Homo sapiens: one gene and its partners. The protein of the gene in region 3 interacts with the protein of the main gene of each other region in a pairwise test. Each region holds a gene or a part of one and is shown on either strand. Other genes may lie near its edges.

Region 1 (4,566 bases), on a different chromosome or scaffold from region 3:
AAGCCATAGAAAGATTGGACCTGCCTGGCAGAGTTGGTAACTGGGCTTTTGTTATGATTCTGTTCCTCAGTAAGTGTAAACAATCTGCAGACATCATGTTCTCATTACATAAGCAAATCCCGTTAAGACCCAAGATAGAAACCGAACCTTTGATGAGCAAACCACTCTCCAGTGTAGGTGTCATTATTGATGTAGTAGTATACGCCATGGCCGTGCCGCAGGTCATTTGCCCACTCTCCTGAAAGGAACAACACAAAGGCAAGCCCAGGTGAGAAGAAGGGATCGATGCCCTGTACCATGTCTTCAAATTGTTAACCATGGCAAAGGCAGATGTGTTGTGAAGCAAATGAAGCCCATGCACACACAGGCCCCTTCTGCTCAGGAAATCCTGCAGAAGAGAGATTTTTAACAGCACCGACCAAGGCTGCTATCTGTTTCCACTCTGACATCCCTCCACCCCTTCCTTTTGTGCCAGATGGCATAGGTGCTGAGCCACGGTGGACAGTGGGCTAAGAGAGGGCTGAGTCAGGAGTTCACGGGGTACAGAGTGAGGTGTATGGATGTGGGCCACAGCCACCTGCATGTACTGACAAGCACATTTCACAGGTTAGTCAGAGGCACCACGAAGATGCAACGAGGAGGGAGACAAACCAAGGTTGTCTGACCCATTGCCAGTGATCCTAACACCACACTTCATTTACCTTGCAAATGTTTAGAGATCCAGCAACAACTCCAGGGCTTGACCATCTATCCTCAGCCACCTGGCAGCATTTCAGTCTATCTCCCACCCAATCATCTGACTCCAACATGCCACTCTAACCCCAGCTGCACACCAGCTCCATCCGCTGGTGCCATGCCTCTGTTTGAACTCTTCCCTCACCTCCTCACCTCCATACGGCTTCTGCTAAGTCCTTATAGGCTTGGTAGGCAGTACTGAAATTGGCAAGGATATCATAAAATTCATAATACCACTCCATGATGTGGACAACTGCAAACTACTTTTGTCAACCACAGTATGAATCCCTGCACTAGAAAACTCAAAACGTCCTCAAATCTTACAGCTCACTTAGGAAAGAAACTTAATAGAGGTCTCCCAAAGGTGACTGCTCTTAAAAACGTGCATATTACACCAAGTCATTAAGCTAAATGATATGTTTTGAGACTATGAATAATAAAAAGCAAATGTTGATCAATTTGTTGATCAAAGAGAAAAGAAGGAATTATATTTCTATTCTCTCTATAGAAAACATTACAAAATGGTTGCCATATGGAGAAGCATTCAAAGAGTATTAGCTAACAAAGGTAGAGAAAAGCTATTCTAGAAGTATGTCAGACATTAAAACTCAGGCTACTTAGATTCTGTGATGTTTGTGGTATTTTTAAATTTTTAACTTATTTTGATTTATCATTGCAAATGAAAATTCACTTTTATACCAACTTTATATTTTCTTTTTTTTAAAGAGGTTCTCAAAACTTACATAAGCTTCTGGCTTACACAAAAACTGGACCCACTTCCACATGAAGATAAAGAATACCCAATAGGCTAAGAAAATGCTAATTATTCAAGTAATATTTGTTTATGTGAATAACCCCAAAATTTATCTGCAGAAGGAACTTCTACATATTTATTTCCTCAATCATCCCATTATTTACTCAGCACCTACAATGTCCTGGGCACTTTGTGAGATGAACGAAGAGCTGTACAAAGGACAGTGCATGTCCCCAGGGCGCGAGCACCAGCCTGAGGATGGAAGGTTGGCACCTGAGCAGCAGCTGAGGACAGGGAAGGCAGCACGAAAAGCTGCATGGCACAATTTCAAAAAGTGGGTAAGTCATTCAGAAAAGAGCAGGCTTACCAAAAATTCATGGAGAGAGGGAAGGTGGCAACTGCTAACAATTAAGGAAGAGGACTAGGTCCCATGATGTGATGTGTGACAGGAACAATGTGAACAAGAGAGATGAAGATCCCCAAATTGAGATAATTCAGTAAAAAATACTTCAGGTCCCTGAACCTAAATTAACCATGAGGATGTGCAAATACCTAGAGGGATTTGTCTGGGTCTTAAGGGGCAGTGATGTGCCTGGATTTGTAACATTTGCCAGGTTCTGTGGTGTAAATACTCACACCGCGGCCAATTTCAAGCTACACATGGAGCTGGGAAGAGATGCACAGAATGGGTTTTTGTGAGCTACTATGAGGGGGTTCCAGCACAGCCCTGGGGCATAGAGACCTCAGCTGAAACAGGTACATCATTTGGTTTCTTCCCAACAAAACTTCATGACAAAATTATTACATCCCTCCTCTCTTGGCCATGTCAGAGGATCTCCAGGGTGTCATGGTGAGAAAAATATATTACATATTTTGCAGAAAAATTTCAAAAATAAAAGAGAACAGTTAAGTTGCAAAAGACACTAAATTTTGCACCAAGAGGACGGTGAGCAAAATTTTTTAAAGTCCCAATCTACTTAAAAAACCTGTTAAGAGGCTCGGCCCAGCATTTTGTAATGCCACCACAGGGACCCTGCACAAATAGAGAAGGTAATTCAGAGAAAAGTCACCTGCTGAGGCACATCTCTAACAGCTATAAGTCAAGTTTCCTTTTTTGAGGTGAGTGACATTTGTAAACTTTATTATTGTGGCTTTAAATTTGCACTTAATTTTTTTTTTAAAGTCTTTCTACCCCAATCCTATACTTTCTGATCATTCTTGAACTTGTCAACTGAGGTTTTTTCCAACTATATTTCTTCTCAGGAGTAACTCCCAGTTGGTTGGTTGGTTGGTTGGTTGGTTGATTTGTTGGTTAACTGGTTGGTTGGTTGGTTGGCTGGTTGGCTGGTTGGTTAGTTGGCTAACCGATTGGTTGGTTGGTTGGTTGGCTGGCTGGTTGGTTGGTTAACTGGTTGGCTGGGTGGTTGGCTAGTCAGTTGGCTGGTTGGTTGATTGGTTGGCTGTTTGGTTGGCTGGTTCGTTGGTTGTTTGGTTGGTTGGCTAGTCAGTTGACTGGTTTGTTGATTGGTTAGCTGTTTGGTTGGCTGGTTGGCTGGTTGGTTGGTTGGTTGGTTGGTTGGCTGGTTGGCTAATTGGTTGGTTGGTTAGACAGTTGGTTGGTTAATTGGTTGGTTGATTGGTTGCTTGGTTGGCTAGTCAGTTGGCTGGTTGGTTGATTGGTTGGCTGTTTGATTGGCTGGTTGTGGGTCAGTTGGCTGGTGTGGAGCAGGTGCTCCTTGGGTAGAGCAGTTTGTCTGGCACTTGGGATTGAAGACAATTTAAAATGAGAAGCTCTCCAAGATGCTCCTCCCCCCTCAAATGCTGGTTGGTCACTGGTTTGCCATGCTGGCCCATGGTCTTGCCAAGTTGGCTCCCTAAACTGCTGGGTCAGCCAAACACAGGAGAGAAGGAGCCCACACTTATGGGGAAACACTCGGTGTCAGACCCTGGGCAGGGTTCCGTGCACTTGCCACAGCATTTGGTATGTGTAATCGCTGAAATATGGTTTTACAGATGCAGAACCTGAAAAGCAGAGAGACTGCATGCATTCCCCAAGGTCCCACAGCTGGTGGGTAGCAAGACTGAAATGAAAATTGGAGTCTGTCTAACACCATGCTCTCTTCTCCACAAGCATCCCAACAGTCAAGTGCTCATTTTTTCCAGCTCCTGCCATTCGGGGGCTTCCAAAAAACCCAGGTTCAAGTTATCATGTCATTCTTCTTTCTCCACAATGTCATTCTTAAACTTCTTTGTTTTGATGAGTTCTGTTTGACAGGCAACAAGGCCAGCAGGGAATAGGGATGCTCTTTCTCCCCCTTAACCTCAGAGTCCTCAGTTGGCCCTACACCCCCAACCCTCAGCATCAGTACATGGGGTCTAGGCCTCCCCCACATCTGGCACCCACCCTCCCCTCCATCTCATCCCCCACTACCCCTAAAAACCTCGGCCTTCCTGCCTGTATCCAAGTCACCCGCCACCCAGGACCGTCTCCCCACTCCTCTCCTGCAGCACTATAGCCTCTGCTGGCTCCTGGACTCCCTAATTGGACTTGTGTGACCATCTGGGAGACAGGTAGGGTACTGGACTTTATGCCACAGGGTCCTGACGTTGAACACACTGCCCTGCACAAAACCATTCTGGCCCATTGTGATGGCAGCCAGCCAAGATACACTGTTATGAATAACTCAGCCATACATTAACTGAGATTTTGTGATTGGAAGAGTATTGGCTTACTATGTTATAATTAATATTATAACTTCTGACCTCAGTTTCCATTGCTGCCTTCATGAAGTAAGACACTTATTTAAGCTTTTGTCAGAGAAGAAATCTCTGGGTAGTGGCTAAATCTTGCACCCTTTAAGATACAAAGCCATCTGGAGAATCAAAAATCCCAACTGTTACCAGAAGAGCTTTATATGTTAGTGTGGCATAATAAGAAATATTGGTCTTTATTCATGGTTCCCAGCACAGAGCTCCTAAAACCCTTGACATTTCCTGACTGATAGAAATGTTTTTGTTATTCAAAATGAGACTCTTTTGACCACACCTGAACTTATGCAAATGAGGCCCAGGATGGC
Region 2 (4,269 bases), on a different chromosome or scaffold from region 3:
TTCTCCTGCCTCAGCCTCCCAAGTAGCTGGGACTACAGGCGCCCGCCACTACGCCCGGCTAATTTTTTGTATTTTTAGTAGATACGGGGTTTCACCGTTTTTAGCCGGGATGGTCTCGATCTCCTGACCTCGTGATCCGCCCGCCTCGGCCTCCCAAAGTGCTGGGATTACAGGCATGAGCCACCGCGCCCGGCCCTGCTTCTCTCTCTTGCTTCCTCTCTTGTTATGCGATCTCTGCACATGTGGATTTCCCTTTCCTTTCCACCATAAGTGAAAGCCGCCTGAGGCCTCACCAGGAACAGATGCTGGCACCACACTTATTGTACAGCTCGCAGAACCATGAGCTAATTAAACCTCTTCTCTTTATTAAGTTACTCAGCTCAGGTATTCCTTTACAGCAACACCAATGGACTAAGAGAATGAATCTTAAGGATACAGACAAGCAAGGTTGTGGTTGTGTGTGTGGCACAGCATTTACTATAAATAACATGAAAAAAGAACTTTGTATCAAAACTTTATTTATTAAACAAAAAATGCACCATTGGAATAACATTTCTATAAAAAAATGAATATGAGACTGTTCTACAGTGTTTACAAAACCCCCTTTTCCTTGTGTAGTAGTATACAAGATCATGTGTAGAAACAGTCATTGTTTTAAACTGTAAGCAAGTTTCCTTTCTTGTAGAACAAGATTTACACTTAAATATTGCAATCACTAGTCTAATTTGGTTAACAATGCTAGAATCTGACAGTTTAAAGAAACTTTTTGTAGGCTCAAAATACCTTTTTGTTAAAAAAGGTGTTTTGTAACAACAAAAAATTTCTTTTCTCACTAAGGCTAGTTAAAGCTGTAGTATACCCATTTCTACCAAATAAACTTATCACTAGCACACTAACAATCTGTTTGAGTTGCAAAGCCCTTTGAATGAGTAGCACTGATCTGCAAAATGCTTTCAGAATTATTTAGGTTTGGTGTTATCTTCTTTGAATGACCCTAAAAAGGGAGAAGTGGCGATGATGGAACTTCAGTGAAGGCTTTGCCTGGACTGGACATCTCTTCATACTCAGCAATGGACAATTCATTTCCAAAGTGGTCCCTCTGAGGTATGGAACACTGCAGCTTTAACAGCCGTATCTAGATCCCAACCAGATCTCCCTTTTTATCATAAATTATCCAAAAAGAAGCCACTCTAAATAATAAATTAAATATTACTTATAAAAAGTACACCCCATACCCGCCCACCCTTCCCCCAAACAAGCTGACAATTCACAAAGTTCAGAATTGTCAGATTTACCCTACAATAATAAAAAACAGCATTTCTCCTCCTCTCCATCATTCCTTTCTTGCATCTGAAAATACATGTTCAGCACACAGTGAGATCCCTTGGCCCATGCCCCTGTGTTTATTAAATCTTGCAGAGTTTTGCTCTTGCTCTTCTACCAACAACAATCATAGGATGACAATGTACAAAGGCTCTCTATTGAGAGTAAGAGAAAAAAGTCCTTCAGAGAGTGCAACTGGAAGTCTGCCACGTGAACGTTATGCAATAGTGGCAACGAAGAGTCCAGATGAGTAGTAATATTCATTTGCTGATATGGGTGTGGTATTTTGTCTTTTACATAACCTCACTGACCAGGAAATTGGCATTTTTTTTCCCAAATCAATACTTTTTGGCAACAGGTATTTAGATAGCAAGATACATTGAGGCATGGGTACATATATTTTGCATTGGAATGGAATATCATACAAAACACCTATCTATGATTTTCCCAAGTATCCAATTTAATTTTAAACACTAGACTCAAATAAAAAGCTTTTCTGTACAATACTAAAGTGATTTCTGAAAGTCACCAGAGAAATGCAAATTATGAGTAAAATGTTGCTTTGAATGTGATTTACAAAAACAGAGACTTGAGTGTATGGCTGCTTCTGCATCTCCAGAAAGTTGTGGGCTCTGTATAGTATATGGTTATGAGCAGGTTAGGATAGTAACCTCTGGCCTGCAGGACTGCCTGTGGTTGCATGAAGGGAACTGAGTGAAAGGGAAAGTAACCCTGCTCTGCATCTATTTTAAAGTTCAGATGACTTTGTTTTCTTTAAACATGCCTGAAACTAGACAATTTTTCCATTTTTCTTTCTTTCATTGACTAGAAATGTACATTCCGAAACCATAAGAATTCTGGGACACAATTTTATCTAAAATGGTAAGATGTTATCTTTAGAGGTAACCTTTTGTTGTAATTACAGTCCAGCTGCTATATCTGAGATACCATATTACATTTGGGGACAACCATAAGATGATTATTTAAACAAAGTCAACAGAAGTACCCAAAGGGTGGATAAGTATCAGCAATCATCTTCAAGCACAGACACCAACAGCTTCCAGAAATACCTGTACTTAAGAGATTCTTTATTGGAAAAGCCAATAAGTGCCAAACATTTTAGTTTCAGAATGTTGTCTGAAACATCACACTAGCACAGGATGGCTCTCCTTGTGTAGCTGGAACCAAAGCAGGAGATTGAACATACACCTAATTTTGAATAATCCCTATTTTGAGGAAACTAAGAATATACTCAACAGGAATCCTTAATAAATCTCCACTTATATCACTGGCTTGGTATTTTTTTCAGCTCATTCAATTGAGTATGCATTTTATAATACCCAAATGTAAAACTTCATTATTTAAATATTCTAGAAGCTTATATCTCTGTTATTCAAAGAGGCAAGTATGACTGGTTTCTTATTGGCTATGATTCACTACGAAATATTTAACTTTTGGCTAGAGCATCATCCAAATATTCTTTATACATTTGAACTATCTAAATTTTTATAAGTTTCACAAATGCAGAAATTTCTGCAGAGGAGAGAAAATAGCTTTCTTATTAGGGTGAAATTTAAAGAAAAATACCATTTTTTTTAAAAAAAAGAGGATGTTGCCTGACATTTAAGCACATTACAGGGCAGACCAGAGAATGCTCTGCCAAATATGATTTTCTTCTTTTTCAGGGAGAAATGAGTTCTGGTGGCAGAGCGGCTGGTTGGCTGTCAGGTATCACCCAATGGGAATCAGAGAGAGTTATGAGCATAAAGAGTCCTGGATACCATGAACTAGACTCAGTAGGAGGAAGTCAGAGGCTAGTTTGCAGTATTCACAGGTTTCTTCTTGTCAAGAGATCAGGAGACTGGGAAATTAATAAGTTACCTGAAAACTTGGGCAGGCAATTATATACATATATGAATCATTTGAGGGTAAAGGGAACAGAGTTATACAAAAGTTGTGGTGACATCATTGTATATTAATACTACCAGGTAAATGATACTAGAGTTTTTTGAGGATGTTTAAATTGATTGTATTATAGATTAAATGCATGGTGCTAATACTGGCATTGCCAGTTACTAAGACAAACCATTCTATTTAATGAAGAAAGTTTCAAAAGCATGCAGCAGAAATATAACTTCCACTGAAGACAAATAACATGTATTTAAATGGATTTTTAAAAATTTTATTTCCTAAATAATTATTTTTGACTAGAAGGATCTAGAAATTTGTGAAAATGATAGGTTTTTTTTTTTTTTTTAATTGGTCAACTTCATTCTATAGATTGAAGGTGTGACTCAATCCCTAAAATCTGAGATTTGCAACCTATTCCAAACTGAGCACTCAGGATTACCCTCGTGGGTGTCAAGTGCCTAAGGAGAATGTTCCATGTTTGCTAGAATTAGAAAGGGGAGGTAATAATTCTTAGGGCCTAGAGAAGGTTGGGCTAGCCCAATGAATATTTTCTTTTTTGAAGTAATGGATTATTTCTGAATAATTCAATATTATGTTAGGAAACACTTTATTCCAGGTCAGTAGAAGGTTGTCTACCTAAGTGCCCAGATGTTAAATAAGAGTAGTCTGTCCCATAGAACAACATCACATAGCTCTTCAGAAAAGACTTCCAGAAAATCTGAGTAACTTGAATGAGCACTCTTGTTGAAGGAACAAATTCGCAAATGGACCGGACTTTCTAATGAACCATTTGAACAGCCCTCTCTTTGACATCAGATTTCCTTCCCGACATAAAACTGTAAAAAAATAAACTGAATTATTACTTCTGTTACAGTGCCATTTTGCTCAAAATATTTTATTCAGGGATTCATATATAATTACCCACCTAATAAAAGGAGCTATTAGGTTGTAAAGATCCTATCCCTTCCATGCTCTTTTAAAATTATGACCTACTCAAGCTTGAAATCAAAGGCAGAGCTGAAAGGAATAATTCAG
Region 3 (5,289 bases):
GGCAGTTTGCTCTGCTTAAGGTTCCCCATCTCCATCCCCACAGCTCCTGTGACCCAAATGCTCTTAATCAAACCGCTCCAGATTCCTTTTGAGTAGGGTTAGCAGGGTGCATCTTTCTCCAGTCCCTTACTTTTAATCTAGCCATGTCTTTATGTTTAAAGTGGGTTTCTTGTAGATTACAGAAATATAGCTGTGTTTTTAATCCTCAAGCACACTTAGAAAGGAACTGAGGACTGCTTCCTAGAGGCTCTTCTAGGTCAGCCCTTTCCATCTCTGCTCTTGTGGTAACTGCTTAACCTTGACCTAGAACACATCCCTCTCTCCCCTGCTGGGCTCTGCTTCCTCTTTCAGTTCCTCCAATGTTGCCTCCTCTGAGAAGCCTTCCCTGACTTCCTCCTTTGTGCTGTTGCACACGTCAAGTACAGCCCCCACCAAGTCAGAGTGTTGCTATGCTGTCTCTCCTCCCATCTGACTCATCCCTGTCTCCCCAGACCCCGCACTGAAGCCCTGACCCTGATTCTCCCACCTCGGCCTCCCGAAGTGCTGGGATTACAGGCATGAACTTCAGTGTCCCTCACTTACCGATCCCCTTCTGTGGGTTATAGGAGCGGTACTCAGTCAGGTAGCTCAGGTGAGGCTTGTCGGCGCTCACCTCGTAGTAGCGGATGTTGCCATCTCCCTGAGGAGGAGGAGAAGGAAGAGGAGGGTGAGATTCAGAGCTGGAGCTCATCAGCTCATCAGCAACCCAGCCATGCAGCAAAGACCTGGCTTTTTTTGATGATCGGCAAACCCATCTCACTCAAGGGAACACCAGGAAACTGGGGGCCCTGTCATCAAGGCAGGAGGGTGATGAGGGGATATTCATTTTATTTTAGATTTTATCTTATTTTTTTGAGACAGGGTCTCACTTTATTGCCCAGGCTGGAGAGCAGTAGTGCAATCACAGCTCATTGCAACCTCCTGGTCTCAAGCCATCTTCCCGCCTCAGCCTCCCGAGTAGGTGGGACCACAGGTGTGTGCCACCACGCCTGGCTAATTTTTTATTTTTTCATTTTCGTAGACATGGGGTCTCACTATGCTGCCCAGGCTGGCCTTGAACTCCTGGGCTCAAGTGATTCTCCCACCTTGGCCTCCCAAAGTGCTGGAATTATAGGCATGAGCCACTGTGCTGGGCCTGGGCCCTTATTTTAATATTCAATCCTCCCCCACCATGACCCAAAGCCCACCCTTTTTCCTCTAAGACAGAAGCTCTGGGAAGACAAGTCCAAATCCCGCTCCTATCTGAGAGCAGCAGCAAAAGTCAGAACTGGGGTGGCCTCAGAGGTCATCCAGAAGGTCTTACCATGGGGAACATTTCTGGTTGTCATAATGACTTGGATGGAGGGGGAGAGATGCTGTTCTTGGCACTGGTGGGCAGGGGCCAGGGCTGCCAGACATGGGATAGTCCTACCCAGTGGAGACCTGTTCTGCCCCCAGTTTAGCAGGTGCCCCTGCTGAGAAACACCAATGGTCCCCCCACATCTGGGCCTGGAGTTGGGAAGAGACAAGGTCAAGGTGTCCAGCCAGAGCCCTGGCTCCAGGTGTTCCTAGGGAGCCAGGAGGGTGGGAGGGGTTCCTTCTCACAGGGAAAGAGTGGCCAGCGAGGCCTGCCCATCCCTGCCCTGTGTTCCCAATGGCCCCAGGCTGCTGTCTGCCGCTGTCTCAGGGGTCCAGGAGGTCACCTCCCTCCCGTGCCAAGCCGACCTTCCCCACCACGTAGAGCATGCTGGTGTCCGCGTCATAGAAGGGAAACAGCACGCCCGAGGAGCCGTCCAGGTCCTCCTCCATCAGAGGCACAGAGAGGTTATCCTGCAGGGGAAGGGGAGGCAGGGAAGGCCTGGGTCACTCCTGGGGGCCCTCAGTGGTGCTCCCGGAGATAAGAATTGCTGCCATGGTGCTCTGGGCGAGAGTGTGTGTGTCAGAGAAAAAGTGTGATTTTTTTATATGTGTGTGCGGGGGGAAGATGTCCCTGGTTCTTGAGTTCCAATGTGTGGGCTACTCTCTAGTGGAGATGACATCTTAAAGGCACTAAAATGCTGCTGCCACCTATTTTGTCAGCTTTCTGCCCTTAACAAATCACTTTTTTTTTTTTTTTGAGACAAGGTCTAACTGTCACCCAGGCTGGAGTGCAGTGGTGCGATCATAGCTCACTGCAGTCTCAAACTCTTGGGCTCAAGCGATCCTCTCGCCTCAGTCTCCCAAATAGCTGGGATTATAGATATGCACCACTGCACCCCGCTGATTTTTTGCAGAGATGGGGGTCCTGCTGTGTAGCTCAGGCTGGTCTCGAATTCGTGGCCTCAAGTGATCCTCCCGCCATGGCCTTCTGAAGTGCTGGGATTACACGCGTGTACCACCATACCTGGCCATAACAAATCACTTTTGACACACCCGATCTCATTCCAATCTTCCCCTACCTGTTTTTTAAAATTTATTTTAATAGATGAAGAAGGAGACTCAGAGAGAAAATGTGATTTGTCCAGTCTTTGAAACTCTGTCAAATGCTCCCTCAAAATACTACCGCCAGCTTGGCCCTCACCCTACCCTGCTCCACCCTCAGCTGTCCCAATGAAAGCTCCTTCTCCCCATACCCGTTAGTACCTCATTTGCTCCAGGTGCACCCTCAGCCCAGATGGCCCTCTCCTTCTCCCTTCCTCCTAGTCCTGGTCCCAGACTCAGCTACCTCCCCTCCTCTAGCCAACGGACTCCCCTGGGTCCTGACCCATCTCCCTCCTTGGGTGGCAAGATACACAGGGTCTGGGCTCGCCCGGGGCTGTCAGCATCTCCCTGCTATTCATCCCCGGATCCCCAGCACCTGGCAGTCTACGCTAAATGTGTGTGTCATAAATGGGTGTCTAAATGAATGCATGCATGAATGAATGACACTGGCTCTCAGCTGAGGGGTGATGGTGAGGGGTGGGGTGCAGCCCTCACCTGGTCCCACAAGGCCACCTGCCGGTTGTTCCATCGGGATGTGCCTGTGGACATCAGCTTCTTCAGGTTCCCCAGAAACAGCACTTTGCTGGCCCGGTGCCCTTTGTAGCTGGCCTCCTGGAGGGACACGTGCGGTCGGTATTGGAGAGACAGTAGAGGATCGGGGGCAGCTGGGGTTTCTGGCCTCCCTGCTTTGCTTATGCCACCGCTCCACCTGGGAGGCCTCCCTTTCTCACCCCAGCTCTGCCTGGAGATTCTTCCCAGGGGCACCACCTGGATCCCTCTCATCCACATGGAGTCTCTCCCCACTATCTTTGTTAAGAGTTATTTTTCTGAGCAAGAACAGAAACAAACTTCTGCCCAGCGCCCTGTTCTTGCTGAAAGAGTATTGGGCATCCCTACAGGGGCGGGCACTGTCACCTGGCCTGTCTTATCTAATCCTTGGAGAGGAAGGACTAACAGCCCATTGTTGCAAATGAGAAAACAGAGGCTCAGAGCAGGAAGCGCTTGCCCAAGGCTGCACAGTGGCTAAACAGTGGTATCGTCGGCTCTCCTGACCCCCTGGCCAGAGCTGAGGCACGCCAACAAGCTTTGGAGTCAGACCAGGTTCAGATCCCAGCTCTCCATGGGGGTGAGTCATTTCATCTCTCACGGGCCTCAGTTTTCTCATCTGCAAAATGGAAAGGACATATCCCACCTTCCAGCAATCCCGAGAGGACAGACAGGGATGCTGCCTGTGAAGGCGCAGCCCAGACGCTGACAGCATCACTGTCCTGTTCTCTGAAGCCTCTCTCTGTCCCCACTCTGCTCCTTGCTCCTCTGAGCCTGAGCCAGCCCCTGGCCCAGAACTGACCTGGAGGACGGTCCCTGCTCGGGGGTCAATAACCCGAATCTTGCGGTCTTTGCAGGTGGTGGCCAACAGGCTGCCGTTGGTGTTGAAGGACATGGAGAGGATCACATCTTGGTGACAGCTAATCGTACTCATGGGGCTTGTGATGACAGACTCCTTTGTATCCAGGTTCCAGATCATCACCTGCATGGCAGAGAGCCAGCTCTGAGCACAGGGGCCACCTTGCCCCTGGGCCTCATAGTTACATGCTGGCCAGGATGCAGTGAAACACAGTATCCCTGGGAGGGTGGCGCAGCTGGCAGCCTGGCCAAGAAGCCTCAGTGGGAGGATGATGTGCAGGCTGAAGCTGCTTGTGGCAGGAGGGGGAATCCCAGGGCCAGGCTGTCTAGTGGTGAAAGGAAAACGCCACCTGCCTCTGAGCAACAAAACATCCATGCTGGGAGGACCCCAGGGAACCAGCTAATCCAGGCGGTTTCAGTTATTAGCAGCAGTTTGCACCTCCCACAGATCAACAGGGCTGTATGTTTAGCTGCACAGGCTGTGCATGCAGAGGTCCAGGGCAATCCATTCCTATAGACTAGGACGTGACTAGTGCCCCCTGAAGTTGGGTATAGAACAACCAGCACAAATACACGCAGCAGCTCTGCAGACACCCCATACAAACAGATGAGAAAGCGCTGTGGATCGGAAGAGCGAGGGCCCAGGTTCCCTCAGTGCTCCCCACAACAATTTTAGTTATTTATTTTTGAGACAGGATTGCCCAGGCTGCAGTACAGTGGCATGATCATGGCTCACTGTAGCATCAACCTCCTGGGCTCAAGTGATCCTCCCACCTCAGCCTCCTGAGTAGCTGGGACTACTTGACGCATTTTCCCACACCTGGCTAATTTTTTCTATTTTTTTGTAGAGATGGGGTCTCACTATGTTGGCTGGTCTCAAATCCTTGGGCTCAAGTGATCCTCCCACCTCAGCCTCTCAAACTGTTGGGATTACAGGTGTGAGCCACCATGTCCGGCCCCCCACCTCCCTTTTATCCAACACAGAGGGTCCCGAGGTGTCTCTGTAAACCCCTATAGTGTCAAAAGGAAAGAACTGAAAGGCCATAGCTATGGTGCCACCAATTCCATTTGTGTACAGATTGGGAAACTGAGGCCTAGAGAAGTCAAGGCACTTTCCCAGGCTATAGTGCAGGTCAGAGACTGAGTCGGAATAGAATTGAGGTCTCCTGTACTGTGGGTCCCAATCTACAGGGCCTACTGCCTGCATGCTTGATTGTCAGTGGAGCAGGGTCGGGGGAACGATTTTCTGGGCAGTGCCATCCCATCCACTCCGGGCAGGCTATAATGAGTTGAACAGGGTTCCCCCCAAAACTCATGTCCACCTGGAACCTCAGAATGTGACCTTATTTGGAAATGGGGTCTTCGCTGCTGAAATTAGTTAAGATGAGATCATAATGGATTAGGTGG
Region 4 (4,566 bases), on a different chromosome or scaffold from region 3:
ACATGGCAAAAGGAAGCCAAGAATTCAGCACAAGTGAGGAAGGTATAGAATTTTCAGGATAAAAGTTGTGTAGCAAGTCCAGTGGTCAATCATTTCACATAACTCCTAAAGTTGTCTCTGGGAGATGTCTCTAAAAAAAGGGAAATAATAAATTATATATGACATATTGAGAGGAATTTTATAATAAAGTCAAGCAATTTGGATGGAAGAATTATTAATAGTTATAGAGAACACTAGGGATATCAATTATCAACCACAGGAAAAATAGTTTTACAAGAAGGAAAATATAATTATAGTATACTCCATAAGCTGTGGCTAATTTTTTTCATGTAGTCAAAATAATGCAAATAGTAAACATTAAATTAACCAAAACATATGAAGCAATGATTTTCAGTGCATAGGATTCTGTGAGGAGTGAGATTAGGGAGAGCAGGGAAAATAATTTAAGGGAGATAGTCACTTTCTGTAGCAGGAAGTTAACAGATAATGTTTAAAATAGAAAAAAAAATCATAGTACAATCATATTGTTTAGAAATACAGAGTTAAATATCAGAAGACATAGCTAAAAATAATTTAAAGTATTATGATATTGTGTGCCATTTGCTAAGAAAGTCTTATCTCTGGATTTCAGAATTCATGCTAAAAATAATTTAAATTTTAAAATGTTCTACAGCAGTAATTTTAAGGTTAAGCTGATGCATAAACACGACTGCAGTTCTTCTGCAATATGTCTGGTGGGGCCAAACCATTCTTTTTGCCCCATTCCCCCTCACCACAGCATCCCCTCGCAATTACACAAACACCAGTCTCATGTACGTAGCAAAGAAAAGGTGCCAGTTTGGATATTTATCTTATGTCACCAATGTCAGCACAATTTCTATGAGATTCTTAGGTCAGTTCTTTCAGTTTCCTTTCCTTCCCTAACTCTCCTGGGGAATTCCTGAAATTTGGAACAGGTATTCTTAGGAATTGTCTAAGCCATAGTTTTCCTAAAATGTTATCTGAATAGAAGTTTAAGATACATAAAATAACATATAAATAGCATTACATTAGTACATGCACATAAATGGGGAATTCTCACTCAAATTCCCACTTTTCCTGAATCCCTCACTCACAGTACTTGGAAAGATGGCAACTTTTGTATTCATCCCATCAAATGCAGGTATCTTATTTTGTCCTTTGAGAATACATGTGATACATATATGTGTGTGTGTATATATAAAGCAGTCCTTTGAGAATACATGTGATACATATATGTGTGTGTATACATAAAGCAGTCCTTTGAGAATACATGTGATATATATATGTGTGTATACACACACATATATACACATATGTATACAAATACATGCACACATAAATATGTATATGTAAACACACACATATATATAAATGAACACGCTATTGACTTCTGGGTTGTGAGAGTGTGTGTGTGTGTACACATATATATTGATATAAATAAATGAACACATGATTGACTCTAGGATATTCTATTAAATATCCTGAATATTTAATGGAAGGGAAAATAAAGACATAACAGTACTGCCATTTTACTTTTCTTTTCTTACTTCTTCCTTAGATAGCTAGAATTACTTCTGGTTTCCCTTAGAGTTTTTCATCCTGATTAGCCATCCCATGTTAAATTTCTAGGTCGTGTTCTCCACCTACTGCTTTATACACATACACACACATGGACACACACACACACACACACACATGTGTGTGTGTGTGTATATATATATATATATATATATATATACACATATATATACACACAGAGAGACACATGCACCCAAATATATATGTGTGCATATGTATGTATATAAATATACACACACACTTACATAAAACAGCTATCGCATAGCATGTGCTTAGTCACTGTGGGAAGGAAGAGAAGATGTAAGGGAAATAATCTCATGTTAATTAAACGCAACTTAACAGTTTCTAAAATGCTCTCTCAGCATATGAACGAAGAAGAAGACACCTCTACATTTGGCACATTTTGTTGCTACGTGGTGAGGGTCACCTTAGTAAGATGCATATGTTGGAAACCTGAATATCTGGTAATGATATGAAATCTTACTGTATCTTAGCCTACTCTTGGGGACTCACACTTGTACATCGTATGTGCCCCCAAAACACTTACTGAATTGAATTAGGCAACTAGAAAAGACGATCAACAACCTGGAAACAGACATGATCACAGGAGCACAACTTAATATAGTTCTTCAACTCATGTCAAAGTAAATCTTCATTACAAAGAGCATTTGTGGAAGCCAAAATGAAACCCATTTTCTTAATGATAATGTCAAAGAACAAATTACCTAGCAAACTAAATTGTGTACATTTGGGCGCCTTCCCACTGGCACACAGCTCAGTGATAAATGAAGAGGAATGCTCTTTACGACCAAACTGACTTGACATATGCTTAGAAGCCAGAAAGCCCAGGGAAGATATTATGTTTCTTAATTCCTTTATGTAAATACACAAACAAATAGCAAAAACCGTAAGAGCACATTTCTAAAAAGCATTTCTATGAGTCTAGTCCAGACAGCCAACTTTCAGTAAAAAACAATTAGTGTTTTTCCTTTAAAATATTCATGTTATCTAATCTAAATTAGACAAGACTAGAATTAGACTGTGGGTGGATAAACATTTAATAACATGATGCAAGAATTTACCTCCATATGATTTCATGCAGATTCCCTTTCTTTAGTAGCAATATGTGTCTTAATCCCACACAAAATCATTATTCCTCTACTTTTACATACTTTGTTTAATGCTGGAATGTACTTGTTATACCTCATTACATGTTAGTGGAAAACATGAATCCCTGTTAAAAGTTTTATTGGCAAATTGCTTAATGGAGATTAAAATATTATATATGAAGTAGCTTCCATGTCTTTAGGCTGTCTGGAAAGCATCAAAAACTTTACCAAATTAAAGAATAAGTCATCTATAATGAGCCAAGTAAGGGGAATAAGTAGTGTTTCACTTTTTCCAAAATACACATCCAACGTTCCATCAGGTTTAGTCTTTAGAAGAAAAATGAAGAAATAGGTACCCAGCTGAAAAATATTATTTTATTGTTAACCCATTTTTAGGTATATCTGAGTTTTTACTCAACTTAAAACATTTTTTTTATTCTTAGCCCTCAGTGATTCAGGCAAATTTGAAAGTTAACTCTTTCAATCCACTAGAAGTCAGCTCATGAGAAAAGAGCAGGGTGTTGCAAAACTGCAAGCTATTATTTCAGCGGTGCTCTATTTTTACGTCCAGGTTGCTGCTATTTAATGTCGCTTCCAGTAGTGTCTAATTTTCTTGCAGAGAGGAGAGCAGATACTGGCAGTGTTTGACTTACCACCCACTTTATGGCTCAAGCCAGCCAGATTTGGAGATTCTCTTAACATTTTCTTAAGCAACCCGCATGTAATTTGAGGAAACTGGGAATATTTTATGATATTCTCCTGATATCACTGAGATCTTTCTGGGGATATTGGTTTCTAGGAGATCCCAGAATTAACAGAGCCATGTGGGACAATATTGCTTTATGGATGTAGTAACTTCTTTTTCTTTTTTTTTTTTGAGACGGAGTCTCGCTCTGTCGCCCAGGCTGGAGTGCAGTGGCGCGATCTGGGCTCACTGCAAGCTCTGCCTCCCGAGTTCATGCCATTCCCCTGCTTCAGCCTCCTCAGTAACTGGGACTACAGGTGCCCATCACCAAGCCCGGCTAATTTTTTTGTATTTTTAGTAGAGACAGGGTTTCACTGTGTTAGCCAGGATGGTCTTGATCTCCTGACCTCGTGATCTGCCCACCTCGGCCTCCCAAAGTGCTGGGATTACAGGCGTGAGCCACCACGCCCGGCCAGATGTAGTAATTTCTAAGTATCTATGTTTTATTTGGATCTCCATGTTTTATTTTTTTTTAAGTATGCAATCTTCTTAATAGTACTGTTTGATCCTATGCAGAATAATTTGGGCATTTACAAATACATTGTACCTTAGATTAATTCTGCAAATAAATTCATTAATGAATAATTATCTTCTTTGCCATAATATCTCTTTTCTGTAGAACCTCTTACAATAAAGAGAAGTATTGCCTTTCCTCTGATCTTGTTTCACTTGAAATTTTTCATGTAACAGGAAATAGCCTAGGGTTAAAGTTGATATTAAACGTGTGGCTGACCTTTTTATTATTGATGGCAAAGCAGTATGATTGAAATGTGGTTTGCTGTATTATAAAAAGATATTTTTATTCAACAAGGAACACGGATTATAATGTTTTATCATCATCATGGTGAGATGCGGTTTTGCTTTAAGTGGTCACTTTATTTTTAGCTTTGCTATCATTTCTAAGAACACTCCAACAGTAGACACAGTAATCACTCCGCGTAAATAACAGATATAGCTACATCAACCCAGGTGCTCAGATAGCAAGTTGACAGTAGGGAATTACATTTTTAGTCATTCCATAAGCACAATTTTCACTGAAATCAGGAACAAGATGTCATTAGGAACTTAATTACTTCTGTTAGCTTGGTGTCCTACCTGGGGTCAATGTCTCTG

The links. The genes of interacting proteins can lie anywhere in the genome.
Region 1: the proteins of CORO2A (region 3) and RSPH1 interact in a two-hybrid assay, tested with the Homo sapiens proteins (one large-scale study listed by BioGRID and IntAct).
Region 2: the proteins of CORO2A (region 3) and DCC interact in a two-hybrid assay, tested with the Homo sapiens proteins (one large-scale study listed by BioGRID and IntAct).
Region 4: the proteins of CORO2A (region 3) and DLC1 interact in a two-hybrid assay, tested with the Homo sapiens proteins (one large-scale study listed by BioGRID and IntAct).

What each region holds. Positions count from the first base shown.
Region 1 is NC_000021.9:42,486,224-42,490,789, forward strand, and holds part of RSPH1 (radial spoke head 1 homolog), read right to left. Parts: intron 239-4,566; coding exon 148-238; intron 1-147.
Region 2 is NC_000018.10:53,532,132-53,536,400, reverse strand, and holds the end of DCC (netrin receptor DCC), read right to left. Parts: 3' UTR 502-4,269; downstream 1-501. UniProt on the Homo sapiens protein: Receptor for netrin required for axon guidance. Mediates axon attraction of neuronal growth cones in the developing nervous system upon ligand binding. Its association with UNC5 proteins may trigger signaling for axon repulsion.
Region 3 is NC_000009.12:98,129,212-98,134,500, forward strand, and holds part of CORO2A (coronin-2A), read right to left. Parts: intron 4,007-5,289; coding exon 3,827-4,006; intron 3,091-3,826; coding exon 2,974-3,090; intron 1,849-2,973; coding exon 1,744-1,848; intron 680-1,743; coding exon 583-679; intron 1-582.
Region 4 is NC_000008.11:13,504,851-13,509,416, forward strand, and holds part of DLC1 (rho GTPase-activating protein 7), read right to left. Parts: intron 1-4,566. UniProt on the Homo sapiens protein: Functions as a GTPase-activating protein for the small GTPases RHOA, RHOB, RHOC and CDC42, terminating their downstream signaling.